3 separate regions of the Homo sapiens genome follow, and regions 1 and 2 are each linked to region 3. The links come from fine-mapping of genetic effects on gene expression. A gene starts in region 3. Each other region holds a variant in brackets. All regions are shown on one strand. Distances are from middle to middle.

Region 1 (2,805 bases), 110 kb before region 3:
TGTTTCTACTAAAAATACAAAAATTGGCCAGGCATGGTGACGCGCGCCTGTAGTCCCAGCTATTCGGGAGGCTGAGGCAGGAGAATCGCTTGAACCTGGGAAGCGGAGGTTACAGTGAGCCAAGACCGCACCACTACATTCCAGTCTGGGTGACAGAGCGGGACTCTGTCTCAAAAAAAAAAAAAAAAAAAAAAAAAAAAAACAAGAAAGTCAATGGCCTTATAGGGTGGATATGCTGAGGAATTTGAACTTGATCTTGGAAGCAAAGGCGACTCAACAAAATTTATAAAACAAGGAGGTACAAGTCAGTTCTGATGGCACTGGGGAGGGCATGAGGAACGCTAATCAGGAGGATGCTAAAACTGCGGAGGCAGAAAGTGATCAATGTGGCCTACATAGTTGAGGCAGTGTCTGTGGGATGGAAAAAGAAAAAACAATTTGAGAGATTCTAAAGAGGTAAAACCACCAGGGACCCAGTGACTAAATGAGGGAAGAAAGCAATGGATAGAAGTTGAGGGTGGTGAGCTTTCTAATCTCAAGAATGGGACTAGGGGATACCGTTAGAGAAGAGGCTGAATGGGAAGAGCCTTGTAGAAAGAATCCTTATTAAAATGTAAGTGACATCCTGTCACGCTTTGCTCCAAGCCTTCTCATGCCTCCTCATCTCAGAGTAACCGCCAATGCTCTTCTTACAGAACTTACAGACTATAAGTTCTCGTATAACCGGGCCTCTCTCTCTCTCTCTCTCTCTCTCTGACCGTCTCCCCTGCTCTCACCAGCTGTCTCCCTCTGCTCCAGGTATGTTGGCCTCGGGTGCTTTTCCTGTCAAGTATACCTGAGGCTTTGCTGTTCTGTAGGCCCAGAACATTCTTCCAACAAGTATCTACATGGCTTGCTCCTACATCACCTGCCCCACAAGAAATAAGCTCAAAGAAGACACGAATCTCTTGTCAGTTTTCACAACTTCATTTCTAATGCCTAAAACAGTACCTGGCACAGAGTCGGGGAGTGAAATCCATTTGTTTAATGGAGTAAGTAACTTAATGAATATGAATCATGTTGAGTTAGATGTAGCTGGAAGACTTTCAGGTAGAGCCACTCCGTAGGCAGTTGGAAGTGGAGAGCTGGAGGTCACAGGGAGAGCTGGGATGGGGACAGAGGTCTGGAACCTTTGAGACAAGAGCAGAGT[T/C]ATCTCAGAAGGATGAAGAGACACAAGGGAAGAGAGAAGCAGTATAGGACTTAAGAGTGGAGACCCAAAAGCCAACAGCCCAGACTTAAATCCTAGTCCCAACATATCCTGCACATAAGTCTTAAACAAATTTTTGAACCTCTCTGTCCCTCGGTTTCCTCATCTCTAAAATAGGGTTTTAGTAACACCTGTCTCAGAAGCATATAGCAAGATTTCAGTGAGCTCACACGTGTAATGCACTTAAAGTAGCAGCAGAACAACCTGGCACACAGCTAGCACACAATCAGTGACAGCAAGGGGGTTACTGAGGATGGTCTCATTTTCTTTGGATAAAAGGGGCTGCATTCATATTTCTGGAAGTCAGAGTTTGTTTTCTGACTATGTAATTCCTCGTTTCCTTGTGTTCCATGATGAGCTAACAGAAGTTCTCTCTGCTTTTCTGCTTTGACCCTTGGTGGTTTGGTTTTGCTTTTCTCTACGGTCCTATTAAAAGAAACTGCAAAACTTCTCTGAAGGTGTTTTGAATTGGAGCATGGTAGACCAAGAGGTGGACAATACAGCAGAAAGAGCATGGGCCTTCAGAGTCAGACAAATATGGGCTGAACTCCAGCTCTCCCACTCAGATAACTAACTTAGTCTCTCCTGATTTCCTCCTTTTTTAATCTTGTTATGAGAGGCAGGCTGAACTCCAATTCCTGGGCTCAAATGATCCTCCCACCTCAGCCTCCCAAGTAGGTGGAACTTACAGTTGTGCCTGGTTCCTCTCTTGATTTCTAAAACAGAAATACCTACCTCAAGTACCTCAAGCCTGAAGAAAAGTAGTTGCTGAATACAATGAATGAGGCTGTTGTGGGGATTGCATGTGAGAGCATGCATAAAACATGTAGCACAAAGCCTAGCACACTGTAAGGATCAATCGACAGACCCAAAATGGAAGCTGAACAGACTCCTGTGTTTATGACTGGCAGCTGGATTGGCATTCCTGTGGTGAGGGCCTGTTTAAGGGACCCAGTGTCAGGTCTGAACTTTCTATTTACTCATGTCATTAAAAAGTATTTTCACTTCATCTTTTAAGAGAAGAGGTTTACTTTTACTAAGGTTTTATTGAAGTACTAAGCCTTCCTAGAAGGTGTACTTTGGCCAGGCGCAGTGGCTCACACCTCTAATCCCAGCACTTTGGGAGGCCGAGGCAGGTGGATAATGTGAGGTCAGGAGTTTGAGACCAGCCTGGCCAACATGGTGAAACCCCATCTCTACTAAACTTACAAAAATTAGGCAGGCATGGTGGCAGGTGCCTGTAATCCCAGCTACTCAGGAGGCTGAGGCAGGAGAATCGCTTGAATCTGGGAGGCAGAGGTTGCAGTGAGCTGATATTGCACCACTGCACTCCAGCCTGGGCAACAGAGTGAGATGCTGTCTCAAAAAAAAAAAAAGAAAAGAAAAACAGCAAGGTGCACTTAGAGTGATTAGATATTAGTATCAGGGTTTGTTGCGGGCCTTGGAAAGATAACAGAGAAGTCTTGATAGTTGTTCTGTTTGCATTTGGGTTTCCTTTTATCCCTCAGTGGATGGCTGGTTCAGAGCACAGTGGGCTGATAACCTTTTGTATCTCATTC
Region 2 (2,852 bases), 140 kb before region 3:
CTAGTGGAGAAGAAATCTGAAACTTTCTCCTAGCTCAGCAGGAAAGAGTGTTATGATCAATTACTGATGTCTGTCATGGGCACTACAAGGGTTAGTGAGTGGCAGCACCAGCATTAGATAGTTGCTATCGATGTCTGATGACATTCTACAGGCACTTCTTATTCATACATAATATACTGTTACACTTGAAAATACCAGAATTTGCTAAACTGGAGTTCATGGACCAGAAAAGAACTCACGAAGGTGTGTAGCTTGACCTCAACCATATTTCCTTAACAAATCTAAATGAGTTGCCAACTGATAAAAGGACTTTGCCTAAAAATCCAAATTCCCAGCTACCCTTGAATTACAAGATCTGGTATCACTGAGCCAGTCACAGTGGCTATAGGGAAGAAGTAGCTGCCCATTTTAGACAAGGACGTGACCTTTGCTAGTCGCAGTCCCCACAGCCACTTCACTTTACTCATTTGAGGTACCTGCCTAACCACAGCAAAGTCTGTGACCCTTACTCAAGAGCTGGGTTGCAGAGATCACAGGCAAATCAGTCCCGTGACCTGCTTTTGCAAAATAAAGTTTAACTAGAACACAGTCATGCCCATTCATTTACATAAATGGCTGCTTTCACACAGACAGCAAGGTTGAGTAGATAAGACACAGACTATAAAACCCACAAAGCCAAAAGTACTTGTTTCTGGCCCTTTACAAAAAAAATTTGCCAACACCTGTTCGAAAGTCTTGATATTTGTGATCTGATGTCTACTGCACATTTTAGTAAAGAAGTTGAGGCTGCATAAAATAATTATGATGTAATGTGACTAATACCTAATAATGTAACATGACTAATGACAGCATACAGTATAATAATTAATGCTAAATTAATTGATATCCAGATCACCTTAGCAAAAGAATATGATATAAAAATTATGTTTATATTTGTGATAACCCAAGACTTGGCTGCTTCATTCTAGGGGGGCACTAATGATTACAGATAGAGCAAACAGCACAAGAAAAAAAAAGGAAATATTTTAGGAAGGTTTTTCACATGTCCCTTTCTGGTCAAATCAACTATAACTTCTACCATTGAAGTCCACACAAAATTAAAAAGAAATAAAAAGGCCCAGGTGTGGTGGCTCACACCTGTAATCCCAGCACATTGGGAGGCTGAGGTGGGTGGATCACGAGGTCAGGAGATTGAGACCATCCTGGCCAACATGGTGAAACCCCATCTCTACTAAAAATGCAAAAATTAGCTGGGTGTGGTGGTGCGTGCCTGTAATCCCAGCTACTCAGGAGGCTGAGGCAGGAGAATCGCTTGAATCCAGGAGGCAGAGGTTGCAGTGAGCCGAGATCGCGCCACTGCACTCCAGCCTGGTGACATAGTGACACTGCACCTTAAAA[T/A]AAATAAATAAATAAATAAATAAATAAATAAATAAATAAATAAAAAAAAAGAAAACCAATTATAATGACTTGAAAAAAATAATTTTCAAACTGTAAGGAACAGTTTTTATGAAGTTTTAATGCCACTGCGTGTGGACAGTCTAATAAGTGGGAATCTTCATAGGGTAACAGTCTGCTTGACTACTTTCCCTTCTAACTTTCATCCTGGTACTCTTCTCAAGCTGGCATCAATAAAGACAATTAGAGACAATAATTGCAATTAGTCTTTCTCGATGTCTCCCAAAAATCCAACACCTTTGAAATCTGCTCAGTAAAATGATAGTTTGGTGAGAGTTTTTCCCCTCCTTAGGCTGTGTAGGGAGGAGGAAAGTTTCACGTCTGATAAACTTTTTATTGTTAAATATAGTGTTCTTACTTCTCAGTGAAATCAACTTGTAATTACCTATAGCAACTGTAACTGATTACTCTTGCCCCATGTTATTTTGGCAACAAGCAGAGGCAACAGGTTCTTACTTGCCTTTAAGCCTCAATAAAATTGAAAAGATTTTAAGTACCTCAGTGTGTTTGGTGCACTCCCAGCTCCCAGCTCCCACTAACCAAACTGTTAAATAAGTAGAAGATGTGACAACATACAAAAGACTGTTAAGTTTAAAAGTCAAGTTTAAATTGTCCAAAACTTCCCCCCAAAATTAACCCATTCAATGTTTTATGCCAGCTAGTTTTTGAGAAAAAATTCTATTTAATAAAGCACAAAATACTTTGTTTACATTTCTAATTATAACCACGGCTCTACAGGAAACAAAGACAGAAGCCAGAGTATGACAGTAGAGATTACAGTGATACTCAAATAAAATATATCACAAAAAATTTTGTACCATATTTAATAACATACATAATAGTGTATGTCAAGAACTTCCCTCACAGGTTCAGTACATATTCATCATCACCATACATTTAAATAGCCCTCTTTCTTTCTTTTTGAGACTAGAGTCTCGCTCTGTTGCCCAGGCTGGAGTGCAGTGTCGTGATCTTGGCTCACTGCAACCTCCACCTCCCAGGTCCAAGTGATTCTCCTGTCTCAGCCTCCTGAGTGGTGGGGATTACAGGCATGTGCCACCACACGTGGCTAATTTTTTGTTAAAAACAGCCCTATTTCTTATTCTCTACTTTCTATTTCCTTAGCCAAGAGCTAAGATACAAAAGATTCTCAGCTTGGTGTGGTGGTTCACACTTGTAATCCCAGCACTTTGGGAGGCTGAGGCAGGCAGACCACTTGAAGTCAGGAGTTCAAGACCAGCCTGGCCAACATGGTGAAATCCCGTCTCTACTAAAAATACAAAAATTAGCCGGGTGTGGTGGCACATGCCTGTAATCCCAGCTACTCAGAAGGCTGAGGCAGGAGAATCACTTGAACCTGGGAGGCAGAGGTTGCAGTAAGCCAAGATAGTGCCACT
Region 3 (2,500 bases):
GTGTCTACGTTATTTAACACTGTTATTCACTGCCAATATTTGCCTAACATAGAGTAGGCAGCAAATGACATGTGCAAAGGCCCTGAAGCCCGATAAAGTATAGTGAAGAGTGACTTTTAAGAAGGCCAAAGTGACTGGTAGGCAGAGAGCAGAGTGTCATATCCAATGGGGTTGTGAAAGCAGGTAGGGTCCAGATCATGCAGGATCTTGTAGGCAATGTGAAGTTTTGCCTTTATCCTAAGAGCAACAGAAAGCCATGGAATATTTTTAAACAGGTGGTTGGCAGAGTAAGGAGAAAGGAAAGGGACATAATTATATTTGCATTTCACGAAGATCTTACTCTATGGTGTGCAGAAGAGAATGGTAGTTGAGGGAAGGGAGAGAAGGTGGAAGAAGAGTTAAGTTAGGGTGTAGAGTGAGTGTAGGCCAATCAATAGGCTATTCCAACAGTCTATTAAAAAGATAATGGTAGCTTGGTCCAAGGTAGTGGAGATGAAAAAAAAAAAAAGTGGGCATATTCCCAATATACGTAGACAAATCAACAGGATCTGAGTTTGGGAATGAGAGAAAGGAAAACACTCAATGCTTCTGAGCCTCAGTTCTTCATCTGTGAAGCTGGGCTGTTATTTATACTCCATCTGTATAATATCTATCTTGCAATCTGCTGTGACAATGATATGAAATAATTTAAATATTATGCACTTAATACAGTGCCTGACCCACAATAAATGCTTTTTAAAATCTCTGTTGCCATTATTATGGTCATCCCATGGAATGGCAACTACCAGAAGCTGAACATCAAAGGTAGAGAGGAGCAATGTAGTTAAAGATTCATATCCACAGCGCTAAAAGACACAAACTGTTATCAGCCGGTCACGGAGACAATTGTTCCAAAGAAACACAGCTGACTGCACAGATATTTCATCTAAGCCGATCTCAGTCCTCAGAGACCATTATGAGAAAGCACAGCTGGTATGATCACAGTCATCTGAGAATCCGGTAAACTGAGGCACAGGGATGGCGACAAATTTAACCAAGGAATAGATGCAGAAGAAGGACAAGGAAATGGGTATCTTGCTTCTCATTTTTGAGCCGATCCAACAAGACTCGGCCTGCATCCTGAAGAGCACGAATTTGTAACATCCCCTCTAATATCTCCAGGTCCCTTGCTGACAAGGCCCTGTCATCCCTTAGTTTAACACCGCGCATCCGCTCGCCATCAAACCAAGCCCTTCCGGTTCCCTGATCCTTGCTCACAGCGCACGAAGATCTCCAGGCCCCGGGAGCCCGACATACCTTAGCTTCGCGCTCTCGTTCCTCGGCAGTCGGGGTGCGCTTCATGCTGCCACTAAAGCCGCCTTCGCCACCGCAAGCTGCGTAGATCCCTCGCCCTGGACCCCGCCTCCTGCATGTAGTTCTCTCAGCGTCCTGCTCCCGTCTGGAGCTATTCTCCCTCTGAGTAGAAAAAACTACAACTCCCAGGATGCACCGCGGCGACACCCGCGAGCGCCACGGGATTTAGCACAGGAGAATTTCCCAGGTCCGACAGCTGGAAGAGCGTAGTCCGCTACCCCGCGAGCAAACAGGCTAGAGTCCAAGGAGAACTACATTTCCCAGGAGGCTACGGGAGCCTGCCATGTTTCTCCCGTGCTCCTCTCGGCCAGCCGCCCGCCACGCTGTCGGCGCTATAGCAACGGTAGCTAGCTGCAGGGCCAGTGGCACGGTGAGTACCCGGGAGGATGGGGGAGGATGAGGGTGGGTGGAGGTTGCTGACCCTCCCCACTGCAGCGCGGGCCGGGGTCCTAGGGTCCGCTCTGCCGCCTGGAGAAGGCCCTGGAGTTGGCCCTGGAGTTCTGCTGGCGTGAAAGCAGCCCAGCCCAAGACACCTCCACATCCTCAGGCCTGAATCACAGGCCGCCCTTTATCCCCACGTCCAGGACCAATTTGAAATGTTATATCCCAGCCATGAAGGTGAGAGTTGATGCTGCTAATTGCCATCTCTATCCAGATCCTGCAAGTTGTAGGTCCCTAACACAGTTTGCTCATTTGCCCTGGATTAGGAGTTGGTTGGTAGACCCTAAACCTCCTGAGTGGTCTATTGTTTGCTTAATTATATATTATTTGTTTATCATGTGATTACCTCCATAACTTGCTAGCTTCATAAAGGCGGGGGTTTTGCTTGCCATTTTAATCTCAGTACCTGATATTCATTTATTCATTCAATAAATATTTTTTCTTTATTCTTTTTTTTGTGTGTGTGACAGGTTCTTGCTCCGTTGCCCAGGCTGGAGTGCAGTGGTAAGACCTCAGCTTACTGCAAACTCCTCCTCCCAGGTTCAAGCGATTCTTCTGCCTCAGCCTCCCGAGTAGCTGGGATTACAGGCGTGTGCCACCACACCCAGCTAATTTTTGTATTTTTAGTAGAGACAGGGTTTCATCATGTTGGCCAGGCTGGTCTCGAACTCCTGGCCTGAAGTCAGCCGCCCGTCTCGGCCTCGCA

The links. PIP is the estimated chance that this variant, and not a neighbour inherited with it, causes the effect.
Region 1: its variant is fine-mapped to the expression of FTO in skeletal muscle (GTEx, PIP above 0.99).
Region 2: its variant is fine-mapped to the expression of FTO in whole blood (TOPMed, PIP 0.98).

What each region holds. Positions count from the first base shown.
Region 1 is chr16:53,813,034-53,815,838 of GRCh38, reverse strand. The region is part of intron 2 of FTO (FTO alpha-ketoglutarate dependent dioxygenase); the gene reads right to left. Among named protein-coding and RNA genes, the nearest start is that of FTO, 110 kb to the right of the region's middle. The variant T/C (reference allele first, on the strand shown) is at 1,190.
Region 2 is chr16:53,838,366-53,841,217 of GRCh38, reverse strand. All of the region lies in intron 3 of FTO (FTO alpha-ketoglutarate dependent dioxygenase), which reads right to left. Among named protein-coding and RNA genes, the nearest start is that of FTO, 140 kb to the right of the region's middle. The variant T/A (reference allele first, on the strand shown) is at 1,399.
Region 3 is chr16:53,703,026-53,705,525 of GRCh38, reverse strand. FTO (FTO alpha-ketoglutarate dependent dioxygenase) reads right to left here and starts at 1,370. Exons shown (of 9, transcript NM_001080432.3): 1 at 1,297-1,370. The coding sequence starts at 1,341. It overlaps RPGRIP1L (RPGRIP1 like), which reads left to right and starts at 1,667. Exons shown (of 27, transcript NM_015272.5): 1 at 1,667-1,723. RefSeq lists enhancers at 1,148-1,557, 1,172-1,672 and a silencer at 1,708-1,757.